Homo sapiens: one gene and its partner. The protein of the gene in region 2 purifies or fractionates together with the protein of the main gene of each other region. This does not show direct contact. Each region holds a gene or a part of one and is shown on either strand. Other genes may lie near its edges.

Region 1 (3,913 bases), on a different chromosome or scaffold from region 2:
GACCAGCTGGAGTTGGGCCTGTGTGAAGCCAGTGATTTCCAACACACTGAAGAAGGTATCTGAGTCCAGTGTGAAAGCCAAATTCCTCCTGAATCTGTGATTTGGTGAAGCTCTGTGAGGTATTTTTTGTGTGTGGAAGACTGAAAGTGAAGGGAAACAACTAAAAAAATTAAACAGACAAAAGCAGTGTACCTTATCCTGGTTTCTTCAAACATAATGCCTGTGCCAAGAATTGGGCAGGAGAGAAACCAACGAAATGAATATAATAACTTATCCTGAGGCGCTCCCTCCCACGCTGGCTTAGAGATCTCGCACACACAAAAACTCTCCTTGTTTATAAGAAGCTGTCTCTCAGTATGCGGGCAGCTCTTCCCAAAAGCCCGTCATTAAATAAGCTAAAAACAGGTGCAAGCGATGTACCTGCATGGGTTCCTGAGACTTGCCTTGCAGAAGCGGCCTTCCAAGTCACCAACTCTTGAGAACTCCAGAGAAAAACAGCGCAAACACGTGGGCAAAAAAAAAAATCCTGGTGCCTGCACCAAGTTCTTCTCCCAAAGTATGTTTTACTCACATAGGGCAAATTTCTGTCGCGGACTCAGCTGCCTTTAGGAGAGTAAGGATTTGAAGGGGTACAGAGAATGCTGTCAGTGTCTAAGGAGGAAACCCTGCCTCACCTATTTCAAATCTTGACTCTGGTTTTCTAAGCAAATTTATCTTAGGATACAAAGCACACATTAGAGCTTCCTTCTTGCCTTAATGCAATTAAATTTGCAGCCATTCTGCAGAAGAACTGAAGCTCTCAGGTGAAAAGAAGCCTTAAATCATGCCATGATATATGTCGGGGGAGGGAACATTTGGGTATAGGTATTTTCCTGAAGGAAGAGAAAGGGTTGAATGTATTGGCAGCTGAGCTGTCCCTTCAAGGGGATATTGTGAAACAAGCTCAATAAAAACCTCTCCCTCTGAAGCATGAAATGTTCCCAGAGGGGACAGGAGGATTCCTTTGGTGCTATGATGCAACCTCAGGTCATGTGCTCGCACATGCTGGAGCATTTTCCTGAGTAACCTGAGGAAAATGTGGCAACAGAGAAAAGCACTTGGAAAATACACGCAGGAGGCAGGTAGTGTTCACCTCCCTGGTTAAAGGAAAGGCACCCCCCACATGCTCACAGGAACTCTCCCTCCTGCCCCTCCTCTTCCCCTACCCCACTTCCACCCCAGGGGCCACCGGAAGCAGCAGCAGCAACCCCGGCTCCTCATCCCCTGCCGTGATGTCTGCAAGTGGCTCTGGCTAGAAGTGGTGCTGGTGAAGGGCTGTAGATGAGGGTCTCTTCTCCAGCCTCTTCACGTGGCAGGAGTGACAGAACAGGTGGTCCTCCAGCGGATAACAGCGGTGGCCATCTTCATCATTGAGCTCCAGACCACAGTCCTGTGGGGAGGCAGACATGTCCAGGGGAAGCAAAACAAAACAGACTGCAAGACTGACCTGAAGGCCACAGTCCCCAAAATCAGCAGAGGGTGCTGTGTGTTTCTGTATAGGCAGGAAATGCCAGTGCAGAAACACAGCTCCTGCCCCGTGGAGGCCTGTCCAACACAGGAGACACTGCCACAAGGCACTTGCTGTGAACCACTTAAAATGTGCTGTCAGTGTAAATGCAGATTCCGAAGACTTAGGACAAAAAGAGGATGTAAAAATATCTCATGGGAAAAAGGAATGAGATCATGTCCTTTGCAGGGACATGGATGAAGCTGGAAGCCATCATTCTCAGCAAACTAACAAAGGAACAGAAAACTAAACACCACATGTTCTCACTCATAAGTGGGAGTTGAACAATGAGAACACATGGACACAGGGAGGGGAACAACACACACCAGGGCCTGTTGGGAGGTGGGGGTGAGGGGAGGGAACTTAGAGGATGGGACAATAGGTGCAGCAAACCACCCTGGCACACGTACAACATATATCTATGTAATAAATCTTCACACGTATCCCTTTTTTTTTTTTAGAAGAAATAAAATAAATTGTGGAGTTACAAAAAAAATCTCATGGGTAACTTTTTTATATTGATTACATGTTCAAAAGATAACATTTGGATTTTTTTTTCTTTTTTGAGACAGTCTCCCTCTGTTTTCTAGGCTGGAGTGCAGTGGTGCGATCTCAGCTCACTGCAACATCCACCTCCCCCGTTCAAGGAATTCTCCTGTCTCAGCCTCCCAAGTAGCTGGGATTATGCACGCGCCAACACATCTGGCTAATTTTTGTATTTTTAGTAGAGACAGGGTTTCACCATGTTGGCCAGGCTGGTCTTGAACTCCTGACCTCAAGTGATCTGCCCTCCCAAAGTGCTGGGATTACAGGCATGAGCCACCACGCCCAGCAGGATTTTTTACTTTTTTAAGACAGGGTCTTGCTGTGTCACCCAGAGTAGAGTGCAGTGACACGATCCTAGCTTCCTAAGTAGCTGAGACTATAGGCACAGCATGCCTGGCTAATTTTTGTATTTTTAGTAGAGACAGGGTCTCACTGTGTTGTCCATGCTGTTCTCAAACTCCTGGGCTCATGTGATCCCCCTGCCTCGGCCTTCCAAAGTGCTAAGATTACAGGCATGGGCCCATGCCTGGCTGGATATTTTGAACCGAATAAAATAATTAATCTCACCGGTTTCTTTTAACGTTTTAATTGTGACTACCAGAAAACTTAAAATGATACATGACTTTAATTTGTGGCTCTCATAATTCTTTAACGTTTTAATTGTGACTACCAGAAAACTTAAAATGATACATGACTTTAATTTGTGGCTCTCATAGTTCTTTCTTTTTTTGAGACGGAGTCTTGCTCTGTTGCCCAGGCTGGAGTGCAGTAGCATGATCTCAGGTCACTGCAACCTCCACTTCCCAGGTTCAAGCAATTCTCCTGTCTCAGCTTCCCGAGTAGCTGGGACTACAGGCGTGTGCCACCACGCCCACTAATCTTTGTATTTTTAGTAGAGATGGGTTTTTGCCATGTTGGCCAGGCTGGTCTCGAACTCCTGACCTCAAGTAATCTGCCGGCCTTGGCCTCCCAAAGTGCTGAGATTACAGGCGTGAGCTATCGCGCCCGGCCCCTTATATTTCTTTTGGATAGCACTGGTCTAGAAAATGTGGAGAGGCCTGTTGAGCAAATGTCCTCACCTTTTTCTCCTGCAGTGACCTGGGGCACCTGGGGTCCCAGCAGCAATGATTCCCACCCATTTCTTCAGTGTTGGCAGTGGGACAAGTCTATATGAGGGACACCCCCATTCTCTACCCACAGGGTCACCAAATGAATCTAATCTCCTTCCATGGGTGAATTCACTTAATTGTGGCTGAAATTCCATGGTCACCCTTCACAAGGGTTGGTGAGGGGCAACCTCTAGCTTTCCTGACAGTCATCAGGTACTAGTGCTCCTTCATCTTGGGTTGGGACAAAGGGCAGGAAGGGGCAGGCGGACCCCACCCGCCTTCACACCACCAGCTGACATGCCTGTTTCCAAGAGGGGCTTCATGATTTCCAGGGCTCAGCTGAGAAAGGAGCTTCAGGCAGATAGAACAGCCTGCAAGCTGGAGGGGAGGGAGTCCCTTCCCCAAATCGCACACCTGCCTGACAATGTGGCCCGCAGATAGGACCTGAAACCCATGCTCTCCACGACCCTCCTAGCTCTGCAGCTTCAGGGAGAGCAGCTCCAACAGTTGCAGGACTTGATAGTTCTGAATATGCAGAAGAAAGACCTTTATACCTTGAGCATTTCCATCTTCTCCTACCTCCCCCAAGAACCAGCCTTCATTCCATTTCCTACAGAAGCTCTAGAGGGCTGACCCTTGCCAGAATCTTGTTGACTGCCTCTTGCCCCAGTCAACGCAGGATGCTTTTCTCTTGGATGTCTACAATGGGCTT
Region 2 (3,913 bases):
TGACATCCACGGCACCAGCAGGGGGTCTGGGTGAGGACTTGATGCTCATAAAGCCAACGGGAGCAGCTTTTCACCGAAGACGGTCCAGGCCCTGGGAAGCTGCATCCACCAAAACCCACGATCCATCCCAGGACAGCAATGGCGCCACCTGGGCCGCTGGCATCTGCCCACACTGGGCTAGTCTGTAAGTGAGGGTCAGAGAAGCAAGAATTCCCAGCTCTTCCTTGGGCTCTGGGCTCCACCTCCTCCATCCATCTATGGACACTCCTGTAGGAACATCCACGGTACTCAACTCTTGTCTCCAGGTAATTTCCAGCCTGGGATTTTGAGAAGAGTTGACAGCTCTGCTGGTTTCTGAAAAACTTGGGAGAGTGGCAATGCACACATATGCACACACACACACACACACACACACACACACAGAGGCAGCAGACAGTGGAGGTGGGAGTCCGATGGTGCCCGGTGGCCATTAGCCCAGATGATGCCACACATGGCCAGTCACCATGGCCAGAGTCTTCACAGCAGCCGGTGCTGTGCAGAGCAGCAGGCCAGCTGGTTAGGATTTTCTGAATCGCACCTCGCTCTGAGGAAGAGAATGGGAGAAGAGGGTGAGGGTGGGCCAGGTGGGCGAGGAGCACAGAAGCCCAAGGTTGGGGTTCAGAACCTATAATTTAGCCTCGCTGTCACCTAGCACTGCCTCTCCAAGGAGGGAGAGCAAAGGGAAAGGATGGATGCAGGATTGGAGGGCCTCTCTGCACTAGATTTCTGGAGCCTTTTCTGCTCCCCCTATCTGAGCCCTCCCCTGTTCCCCAGGCAGAGAAGGGGAGGGCTGGCAGAGCACCCCCTGCTTTACAGCTAAAGGCTGAAGGCCCAGAGAAGGCAGGGTCTCAACTAGGTCAGCAGAGTTGCAGGCAGATCCCTGTTTCCTGACACCGAAATTCCTGCCGTGGAGGGAGGCCTCCCATCACTCCACTGCCAGCGGCCTGTGTGAACTCACATCTCGGTCATCCCTGGGAGAGGAGAGTGGCACTGGGGCTGGCACCGAGGTGAGGCCCACCTTTTATTCTTTTCATTTATTTGTTTATTCATTCATCCTTAATTTATAACAATAAATAGTAAATACCGAGGATATTCCAGGCATTGTAAATGGCTGATTTTGATAGATTAGTCAGAGTTCTTCAGTAAGAAAAATGGAAGATGAGAGGGTGGAAGTGGGAGAGGGGACTCTCTAGGGTGGATCAAGTATTCCAAAGGCCAAGGGCAAGGTAAGGCACACACTGAAGGGTCTGTGGTTCAGTTTGACCTGAGCAATGACTTCTGAGGTTGGATATAGGTTAAAGCAAGTCAAAAAACATAAAATAACTTTTTATTATTTTATTACTTTATACTCTTTTATGATAGTAGTGAGGTTCTGATGAAATATTTTAAGTGGGAAAGGGAAAGAATGGTAGTTCTCAGGGAGCATTCTGGTGACAGCTGTGAAAGTTGTCAGAGTTAAAATGGAGTCACTTGTGTTTTTAAAAAAAGACAACAACAACAACAAAAAGAAAATCAAAAAGACTAAAACAAACAGAGCTGGGAAAGGCCATGAAGAGCGGATTCCCATGCATAAATGCTTGATAACAAAAACTATCACAAAATCCTCTGCAGAAACTGAAACGTTTTCAAAGTCCATTGCAACCTTACACAAAAAAATACTTCTGGGAGAACATCTGCCCAGCAACTGCCTGCCTGGCCTGTAGGTCCACCCTTTTTCAACCCGCTGAGCTCTGTTCTGAGGGAAGAAAAGCAGGGAAAGAAACACAGACAGCTGGGATTGACCCCAGGCATCACATTTGACCCTGTCCAGAACACCCCCCGAATATGGGGACGCTGAGGGGACCTCTGCCTACAACCTGGGTGCTCCTCCAGGGTCCCCACCTGAGGAAGTTCCCAGCCTGCTGGGTGCAGTGTCCTGCTGCAGGGATCTTACCTCCATCTTGCTGTAAATCCAGGGAAGAACTTCTGTCACTTTGGTGTACACACCAGGTTTGTTTCTCTGGCCACAGCCTGTGCCCCAGCTGGTGACACCTGCCAGGTACCAGCGGTTGTTCTGCTCACAGACAAGAGGCCCCCCGCTGTCTCCCTGCAGGGGAGAGGGGGCACATTCGCAGGATGGGACAGGTGGTCCATGAGCGGGAAAGGGTGGGGTCCCAATTCCCACATCAGCCCCAACACCCCTGCCTCCCCCATCCCCAGGGTGCTGGGACCTGAGCCCCACCCACAGGTACCCTCACCTGGCAGGAGTCTCTGCCCCCACGAAGGTCCCCAGCACACATCATCCTTGGGGTAAGGTAACTGTCATAGACCAAGTAGTCATTGCATTTCTTGAAGTCGATGAGATTGACCTGCACCTCCCGGAGGAAGGGGGATGTCTTGTCTTCAGTGAAGTGGGGTGGAGGAGACAGAGGATGGGAAGCCAGTGAGATTCTAGATAGCTTCCTGGCCGTCCAGCTGCCACCCCAAGACCCAGAATCACAGCCTCCTGGGAATGGAGGGTGCCATGCCCGTGCCTGGCTCCCACCCAAGGGAGGCCCTCTGTGGTTGGACACCCAGGACATATGGGCACACACGCCCTCACACAAGACACAGCTCACTGCACGTGAGACAGAGACATCCATGCACACAGACACACTCACAAGCCTATCAGGCTACCCGACATGTTGCACAGCACTTGCCTACGTTCAAAGCACCCTCAGATACATGGCTTTGTTTGTTTTTGGAAGCTATGTGCCCTAAAGAGAGCAGGTGGCATTAATCCATTTACCGGTGGGGAGGCCTGGTGCTGGAGAAGTGACCTGCCCACAGTCACACAGCTAGTCAGGTATGGAGACAAGAGGAGAAGTAGGCTGCACCCACATCAGTCATTGCTCTGCCTCACGGAGGGAGGGAAAAGCGGTCCTGATGCATGGAAGTGGCCTGAGTCTAACCATGGGGTCATCCTGCTCAAAGTAAGCAATCTCACAGGACAAGGCACTCTGTGATTGGGATGACATGAAAACAAGACCACTTCATCATCTTGTTTAAGGCCAGACAAAAACAAGGTCACTGTGCAAACCACAACAGTACCAGACATCCCCCTCTCCTGGCCAATATGAGTGACTGCTGCTTCCTTACCACTTAGAGCTCCTAGATAAGATTATATATATATATATATATATATATATATATATATATATATATTCTTAATTGAGACGGGTTTCACTCTGTCACCCAGGCTAGAGTGCAGTGGCATGATCATGGCTCACTGTAGCCTCAACCTCCCTGGGATCAAGTGATCCTCCTGCCTCAGCCCCTCTCATAGCTGGGACTACAGGCACACATCACCATGCCCAGCTAATTTTTCTATTTTTTGTAGAGATGGGGTTTTGCCATGATGCCCAGGCTGGTCTTGAACTCCTGGGCTCAAGAGATTCTCCCACCTTGGCCTCCCAAAGTGCTGGGACTACAGGTGTAAGCTACGGTGCCCGGCCTCTAGATAAGATTATTAAGGTTCCCAATCATAACCCCTGCTTCCTGACACCACAATTTAGAGAAAAGTCCTGCGTCTTTGAACCCTCCCCAAGCCACCTAAATCCTACGAGCATTCCCTCTCTGACACCCTCTTGCTGAGATGCTCCATGGTTCTTCATGGTGTGTTCTCTCTCTCATTGCAATGAGCAATGAACTCAACTAGTTCAACCACAGCAGTTTTCCAGGTGGTCTTGATTGGAGGGCATTGTCACAGTGACTGCACCGGCATATACTCAGGTGTCTATACACACATAATCACACCCAGGCCCATGAATCCGTATACCCAAACGCTCATCGACATAGGCCTTCATCTGTATACCCAGACACATTGCTTACACACGCACATGTATACACACACATG

Evidence for each region.
Region 1: the proteins of TMPRSS13 (region 2) and LIMD1 purify together in Homo sapiens (co-immunoprecipitation; 2 studies listed by BioGRID and IntAct, with this or other methods). This does not show direct contact.

What each region holds. Positions count from the first base shown.
Region 1 is NC_000003.12:45,674,438-45,678,350, reverse strand, and holds part of LIMD1 (LIM domain-containing protein 1), read right to left. Parts: intron 1,430-3,913; coding exon 1,292-1,429; 3' UTR 1-1,291. UniProt on the Homo sapiens protein: Adapter or scaffold protein which participates in the assembly of numerous protein complexes and is involved in several cellular processes such as cell fate determination, cytoskeletal organization, repression of gene transcription, cell-cell adhesion, cell differentiation, proliferation and migration.
Region 2 is NC_000011.10:117,901,683-117,905,595, forward strand, and holds part of TMPRSS13 (transmembrane protease serine 13), read right to left. Parts: intron 2,420-3,913; coding exon 2,277-2,419; intron 2,126-2,276; coding exon 1,973-2,125; intron 1,770-1,972; coding exon of another isoform or gene 1,755-1,769; exon of another isoform or gene 1,360-1,754; intron 584-1,359; coding exon 557-583; 3' UTR 1-556. UniProt on the Homo sapiens protein: Serine protease. Cleaves the proform of PRSS8/prostasin to form the active protein. Cleaves the proform of HGF to form the active protein which promotes MAPK signaling.